Homo sapiens: one gene and its partner. The protein of the gene in region 2 interacts with the protein of the main gene of each other region in a pairwise test. Each region holds a gene or a part of one and is shown on either strand. Other genes may lie near its edges. The genes, in order: A1CF and RIMBP3C.

Evidence for each region.
Region 1: the proteins of RIMBP3C (region 2) and A1CF interact in a two-hybrid assay, tested with the Homo sapiens proteins (one large-scale study listed by BioGRID).

What each region holds. Positions count from the first base shown.
Region 1 is NC_000010.11:50,808,964-50,812,774, forward strand, and holds part of A1CF (APOBEC1 complementation factor), read right to left. Parts: intron 2,214-3,811; coding exon 2,077-2,213; intron 1,080-2,076; coding exon 931-1,079; intron 1-930. UniProt on the Homo sapiens protein: Essential component of the apolipoprotein B mRNA editing enzyme complex which is responsible for the postranscriptional editing of a CAA codon for Gln to a UAA codon for stop in APOB mRNA.
Region 2 is NC_000022.11:21,548,534-21,552,922, reverse strand, and holds the start of RIMBP3C (RIMS-binding protein 3C), read left to right. Parts: upstream 1-1,461; 5' UTR 1,462-1,946; coding exon 1,947-4,389. Other genes in the region: UBE2L3 (ubiquitin-conjugating enzyme E2 L3), read right to left, coding at 3,273-3,473.

The DNA of each region.
Region 1 (3,811 bases), on a different chromosome or scaffold from region 2:
ATGAGAAGTAAAAAATGACAGATTTCTTTAATAAAAATAATCTTTTACTAAAAAAAAAAAGGATAAAAAATTTTCAGCTGAGAAAAAATTTCCTAAACAACTTTCTTGCCTGGTCCCCTTCAATCTCTAAAGGATTCAGTTTTAATTATTACCATTTGTTGTGGGTACATAACAAATGGGGACAAATCTTTTAAAATGTGACCTCTGAAGGCATTGTTGATCCACGGATAGGCTTTGCTTTAAGCAATCAGCATATGCCCCAGACCAAAATTATAGAACAAATAAATTGAGTTGAGTCCTGATTATTCACATATTGAAAGGATCTCTGTCTGTCTCTCACTCTCACAAAATTTTTGACTTTAAAAAATCTTTTTTGAAATCAAATTAATAAAAGTAGATTGAAGACTGGAGAGGGAGAAAAGATTGCTGAAAAGCTAATTGCCAGTGGCCAAATTACTTAATCTTTCTGTATATGGGCTCTTCATTTGTATACCAGACTTTCTGATGGAACCTAACTCTTGGTGGTATCATGAGTATTACTAAGATATTATAACGCTTCCTGACCATTTAAGTGAGTGCCTAGCACACAGTAAGATCTCCAATAAACATCATATATCTATAGGTAGTTTCAAACTCTCGTACTAAAAGTAAAAACCAAAACAAACCAGACTCAGAGAGACTGACTCATTCAAGATCACACAGCAGTTTAAAGCTGAGCCGAGACCAGAACCCACTCTGCTGCCCAGCTTGATTTTCTTGCCTCGTGTTTTAATGAGTCACTCATTTGGGAAACTCTTTTTGGTCCCAAGGTTGTGCAAGTCAGATTGCTGTAAGTAGGGTACACAAACATTTCTGTGATTCAATGGTACCAAAAAAGGGTTTCCCAAATACTCTCTGCAGGGCGCCATTTCTGGCACAATTTTCCCATACCTGGGAAAGCAGTAGCAGCAGCAGCAGCAGTAGCCATGGTGCCATCGCCTCCATCAGTGGGGATGCCCAGGGTCTGCAGGGTGTATTCGGCTGCATACGTCTTTGCTTCATCCACAAAGGCACTCAGCTTTGGAGGTGTGAAAGGGTGGCTGGAAAGCAAGTCAGTCAGGGTAGGCATTTTTAAACTGGTACAACTGAGTCAGGTGAAAACTTAAGGCACTATCAGCTTTGTAAGATGACTGGATGGTGGTATTTTGAGTGGGTGTTTTTCATTCTGTTTGCTATTAAAGCTTCTAAATATAGGTTGCATGTAGAAATATTTACAAATTGATCTAGAACATCAGTGGTTGATGACATTCCTGGGACATACAAGTAATTCACTACATGGCTTTTCTAAAGCACAAGTGAAACAAATTGTTCCTAAAATATATAGAAATGCAGGCTCAAGGTAAAATTCAGGAGGTGATATCCACTAACAGAGAGGTCATATCTTTGGTCCAAAATTAAATGATGGGCCATTGTCTTATTATGTATAAAATGGTAGTTTCATATGCTTCAACCTAAACACTGCACAGATGAAAGAATGGGCTATAGCTTTGTTTGTTTGAAATGGAGTCTCACTCTATTGCCCAGGTTGGAGTGCAGTGGTACAATCTAAGCAAACTCCACCTCTCAGGTTCAAGTGATTCTCCTGCCTCAGCCTGCTGAGTAACTATGACTACAGGCGCCTGCTGAGTAACTATGACTACAGGCGCCTGCCTGTACCGGCTACTACATCCGGCTAATTTTTGTATTTTTAGTAGAGACGGGGTTTCACCATGTTGGCCAGGTTGGTCTCAAACTCCCGACCTCAAGTGATCCAGCCAAGAATGGGCTATAGTTTTTATTTCTATTACATTTTACACTACTGACTGTTATCCACTGGCTGGTGATACTACACAACCTTCATTGTGTATATGAAATTTGGGGGCCTTTATATGCTGGTTTCATGGCTGGCACATCCCAACTACACATCTCAATATTTGCATTGAATGACAAATGAGTAGGTAGTAGACCTCAGTATCTTGTTTAGATGGTGACTAAATGCATTTAATTTATAAGTGTATCCTGCTCTAAAATGGTAAGGAATTTGGAGAAGTTACGCACATTGCAGGATTCTGGCTGGCTAGAGCAGGAATAGTTATTTTGTACAAGAATAGCTGTCTTTGGTCTTGTCCAATAGCAGAGTGCAGCTGGTACACTGGCTGTCCCCAGTTATTTTTCTGACAAATCTCTTCTAATATCTACAAGAATAAAAAAAGTTATTTCCCCCTCAAATGACACATTCACATTATTTCCCAAGTTTTCAGGTTTTTAAACTCTAATTTTCAGAGTTCAAGCTAGTATCTGAAGACATAAAATGCCACATGATTTAATGACTCATAAAATTTAAGATGAACTCAATTTGAACTCCATTTAAAATGTTAGGTCTATTAGTTCATAAAATCACTTTCACACCATTTACTGTAATATGTTTTTAGTTTAGTCTATTAGCTGTAACTTTTTACCAAAAGCTTAATTTTATGATTTGTTTGGAATATTTGTTTTTGTAAAAATTGTTGCTCCAACACTGTGTGTATAGATTTGTATAGATTTACTCATTATTACTCTCAATCTCTGTGTTTATAATGGTTTAGAGATGATAGCCTAAGAATATATTTTTATTTCGTGACATTTGTCATAGGGTTTTAATCTCACAATTTCATAAAAATAGAATTAAAAAGTTTAATGCTTGGTATTTATCGAGTGTTCCTAGATGGGTGTTGACAGTTGCAATGTTTTTATTTGTTTGGTAAGACACTATTTCTGCCTTTTTTGTTTGTTTGTTTGTTTTTTTGCTTAATGACAATATGCTTTTTAGCATCCTCCTGCATGTTTTTTCTTCTGTAATTACTCCAAACTGAATATTTTCTAAAGATTCATAGTTTCTTTATTCTGAAGCCATTTTTGGTTGTCCAGAGGTCCTGATGCTCTCGTTAGTCAGCAGATTCAGTAGACTGTGGAAAGCAGGGCATAAGCCTGAGAAAATAACTCTGTAAGACAGAACAATGTCTCAGGATGTGTCTCTGAGGTTTCTTACCTCATTTATGCTAACTAACCCAGCTGCAATAGCATGATATTTTCCAGTTTATTAATTTGTAGATTGTTACTGTTTTTTCTATTGATATTTTCTTTTTAATACTCTTGTTGTGTAGGATCTCTTGTAATCCTCAGAGCATTCTCTACAGTTCTTGGGCAATAATAAAGGAGCTTTTGCTGGTAGATATTATGCCTGCTTGTTTATGCCAGGTGAGCAAACCTGGGCGGAAGGAACACCAGCTCTCACTGCTGACTTTGCAGGAAAGGGCTTGTCTCTCTGCTTCTGGCTGGAAGTTCACAACTCTACTTTGGGATTGTTTAGGCCCCATCTGTGTTGGTTGGTGGTGGCATGGTCTTCATTTCTAAGCCATAGTTGTAGAAGGTCAGACACAAATTAAAGAACTTTTATTAATTGATAGAGATTGTTACTCACATACTAATAAAAGACATGATGAATTTCTAACTTGAGTTTAATGTAAAATGAAGAGATCTCTTTTCATACTATTGCAGCTCTCGGAACTATTATTATACAGAATTTGCGACTATTATTTTTTATTTTCTTAAAATATTTCTAAGTATTCCAGTACTTTAATCAGGTTTTTTGTTTTGGGTTTTAACCTAAGAGAAACTGGATGAGTGGCTTTTATATTTTCTGAACAAACTTCATCATATCACTTCCAGATTTCATTATATGTTTACGTGTCAGTTTTTTCCCACTGGATTGCCATCTAATTTTTCATGATAAGGATTTTGTTATATTCAC
Region 2 (4,389 bases):
AAACCCCATCTCTACTGAAAATACAAAAAAAATTAGCCAGGCGTGGTGGCGGGCACCTGTAGTCCCAGCTACTTGAGAGGCTGAGGCAGGAGAATGGCGTGAACTCAGGAGGCGGAGCTTGCAGTGAGCAGAGATTGCGCCACTGCATTCCAGCCTGGGCGACAGAGCGAGACTCCATCTCAAAAAAAAAAAAAAAAAAAAAGAACATCTGGAGCCATAATTCCCGATGTTCTTGTTACTTGACACTGCCTAAAGGCATGTTCTGTGGGTTCCGGGGAAACTGATTTGAAAAACTTGAGTGTTGTAAAGGAGGGCCATAAGCTGAGTGAACACAGCAGTTGTGAGAGGTCCCAGGTGCTTCCTGGGGACAGGGAGACACGACAGACCAAGAAGCAAAGGGGCCTCTGATGTGACTTCAATATCAAGGTCTTGTCGGGCACAGTGGCTCATGCCTGTAATCGCAGCACTTTAAGAGGCCGAGGCGGGTGGATCACTTGAGGTCAGAAGTTCAAGACCATCCTGGCCAACATACTGAAACCCTGTCTCTACTAAAAAGTACAAAAAATTAGCTGGGCATGGTGGCTCAAGCCTGTAATCCCAGCTACTTGGGAGGCTGAGGCAGGAGAATCTCTTGAACGTGGAAGGTAGAGGTTGCAATGAGCCAAGATTGCGCCACTGCACTCCAGCCTGGCGACAGAGTGAGGCCCCATCTCAAAAAACAAAATCAATGTCTCGATGCAGACTGCCAGGTATCAGGTGTCCATCCATGTCTCCAAAAAGCCACTTGGCACCAGGAGCAGACAGGAAGGGCAAAGAGGAGCCAGACTGAAGCAGGGCTTCTTAGCTCCCAAGCCACACAGGTGGCCACCAGTCAGAGAGGCAGTGTGTGTGTGTGTGTGTGTGTGTGTGTGTGTGTGTGTGTGTGTGTGTATTTCTTCAGTTCAGTGTGTGTATGTATGTTTCTTCTGCAGCTCAGTGTATGTGTGTATTCCTTCAGCTCAGTATGTGTGTGTGTGTATGTTTCTTCTGCAGCTGTGTGTGTGTGTGTGTGTGTGTTTCTTCTGCAGCTCAGGATGCCTCCAACATTTCTGCTGAAGCCTCACCCTCACTCCTGGCCCATCCTGAGGCCTCTACCTAAGATGCCAATGAGTAGCCCAGACACTGGGGCTCCAGTGTTTGTCACCAGGTGGTACCTGGATGTGGGAGGTAGACAGGCCAGATGGCCAGTTTGGGCAGTGCCCCCATGCCTATCTGGCCCTGGGTCCCTATGCCACCTTGCTGGGGAGGGTCTTTTCGCTTACACCTCCTCTGAGCCGACTCTGCGCAGTAACACAAATGTGTATCAGGCACATCCTTTCCTCAAAAGGTGGATGACCAGTTGGGTGATCAGGGCTGTTAGGGGGCTGAAGGGTCCTGGGGAGTCCAGGTCTAGCCAAGTTGAGGCCTATCCTGCTGCATTTTCCAGCCACCTGACCCAAATACACCACCTGAACCCACGACCAGGTATGCCCACACCCCATGGGTGGCCTTAACACACACACCCTGCCCCTTTCTCCAAGTACAGGAGCAGCAGCCCAGACTTCCCTCGGGGCACCGCGGCCTGCTTGGGACTGCACAGTGCCTGGGAGGGTGCCTGGGGAGGGTCACAAGGGACTTGGTGCTAGAAGCAGGAAAAGTGTAGGGACCGGAAAAGCCCCCGTGCATCCTGGAAGGGACATGGGCCAGTTTGAGCAGGGGTGTGGGAGTCCAGCCCTGGCCTTGCCAGGTGGAGAGGCGCCTGGGCCAGACATCCGCGGCAGGAGGCGGGGGAACATGCCAAGAGGCGGAAGGGGCACGCGGAGACCCCCAGGGGGCGCCGGAAGGGGCGCGCCGGGCGGTCGGCGGCGGCCGTTGGCGAGCTGAGGCCTGCCAGGCGAAGTCTGGAGACCAGCCGGGCCGCGGCCGCAATGGCCAAGGACTCGCCCAGCCCCTTGGGCGCGTCGCCCAAGAAGCCGGGCTGCTCCAGCCCGGCGGCGGCAGTGCTGGAGAACCAGAGGCGGGAGCTGGAGAAGCTACGGGCGGAGCTGGAGGCGGAGCGGGCAGGCTGGCGGGCGGAACGGCGGCGCTTCGCTGCCCGGGAGCGCCAGCTGCGTGAGGAGGCCGAGCGGGAGCGGCGGCAGCTGGCTGACCGTCTGCGCTCCAAGTGGGAGGCACAGCGCAGCCGGGAGTTGCGGCAGCTGCAAGAGGAGATGCAGCGGGAACGCGAGGCCGAGATCCGGCAGCTGCTGCGCTGGAAGGAGGCCGAGCAGCGGCAGCTGCAGCAGCTGCTGCACCGGGAGCGCGATGGCGTGGTGCGCCAAGCCCGGGAGCTGCAGCGCCAGCTGGCCGAGGAGCTGGTGAACCGCGGCCACTGTAGCCGCCCGGGGGCGTCCGAGGTTTCCGCGGCGCAGTGCCGCTGTCGCCTGCAGGAAGTGTTGGCGCAGCTTCGCTGGCAGACTGACGGCGAGCAGGCGGCGCGCATCCGCTATCTGCAGGCGGCGCTGGAGGTGGAGCGCCAGCTCTTCCTCAAGTACATCCTGGCGCACTTCCGCGGGCACCCGGCTTTGTCGGGATCACCGGACCCCCAAGCTGTGCATTCCTTGGAAGAACCGCTGCCCCAGACCTCCAGCGGCTCTTGCCACGCCCCCAAACCCGCCTGCCAACTCGGATCTCTAGACAGCCTGAGTGCTGAAGTCGGTGTGCGCTCCCGCTCGCTAGGCCTGGTGTCCTCTGCGTGCTCCAGCTCCCCAGACGGCCTGCTCTCCACGCACGCCAGCTCCCTTGATTGCTTCGCACCTGCGTGTTCCCGCTCGCTTGACAGCACCCGGAGCCTCCCCAAGGCCTCCAAATCCGAGGAGCGGCCCTCCTCACCAGACACCTCCACCCCTGGCTCCCGGAGGCTCTCGCCGCCACCATCGCCACTCCCGCCGCCACCACCACCGTCAGCCCACAGGAAACTCAGCAACCCGCGGGGAGGAGAAGGCTCTGAGAGCCAGCCCTGCGAAGTCCTGACTCCCTCACCCCCGGGCCTGGGCCACCACGAGCTGATAAAGCTGAACTGGCTGCTGGCCAAGGCGTTGTGGGTGCTGGCGCGCCGCTGTTATACCCTGCAAGAGGAGAACAAGCAGCTGCGGCGTGCAGGCTGCCCCTACCAGGCAGACGAGAAGGTGAAGCGGCTCAAGGTAAAGCGCGCGGAGCTGACCGGGCTCGCGCGGCGCCTAGCTGACCGCGCCCGCGAGCTGCAGGAGACCAACCTCCGGGCCGTGAGCGCGCCTATACCCGGCGAGAGTTGCGCCGGCCTGGAGCTGTGCCAAGTCTTTGCCCGCCAGCGCGCTCGGGACCTGTCGGAGCAGGCGAGCGCGCCGCTGGCCAAGGACAAGCAGATCGAAGAGCTGCGGCAGGAGTGCCACCTCCTGCAGGCGCGTGTCGCCTCGGGTCCCTGCAGCGACCTGCATACTGGAAGGGGCGGCCCCTGCACCCAGTGGCTCAACGTCAGAGACTTAGACCGCCTGCAGCGCGAGTCCCAGCGGGAAGTGCTGCGCCTGCAGAGGCAGTTGATGCTTCAGCAGGGCAACGGTGGCGCTTGGCCCGAGGCGGGCGGCCAGAGCGCAACCTGCGAGGAGGTGCGACGGCAGATGCTGGCGCTGGAGCGCGAGCTGGACCAGCGGCGGCGCGAGTGCCAGGAGCTGGGCACGCAGGCGGCCCCGGCGCGGCGACGTGGCGAGGAGGCCGAGACACAGCTGCAGGCGGCGCTGCTCAAAAACGCCTGGCTGGCGGAGGAGAATGGGCGGCTGCAGGCCAAGACCGACTGGGTGCGGAAGGTGGAGGCTGAGAATAGCGAAGTGCGCGGCCACCTGGGCCGCGCGTGTCAAGAGCGCGATGCCTCCGGCTTGATCGCCGAACAGCTGCTGCAGCAGGCGGCGCGCGGGCAGGACAGGCAGCAGCAGCTGCAACGCGACCCGCAGAAGGCCCTGTGTGACCTCCATCCTTCCTGGAAGGAGATACAGGCGCTCCAGTGTCGGCCTGGTCACCCTCCTGAACAGCCCTGGGAGACCAGTCAAATGCCGGAGTCCCAAGTTAAAGGTAGCAGAAGGCCCAAGTTCCACGCACGGCCTGAAGACTACGCAGTGTCACAGCCCAACAGAGACATACAGGAGAAAAGGGAAGCCTCCCTCGAGGAGAGCCCAGTTGCCCTTGGGGAGTCAGCCAGTGTCCCCCAAGTTTCAGAGACAGTCCCTGCCAGCCAACCTCTGTCCAAGAAAACCAGCTCCCAGTCAAACTCCTCCTCTGAGGGGTCGATGTGGGCCACCGTGCCGTCCTCCCCTACTCTGGACAGGGACACAGCCAGTGAGGTGGATGACCTGGAGCCTG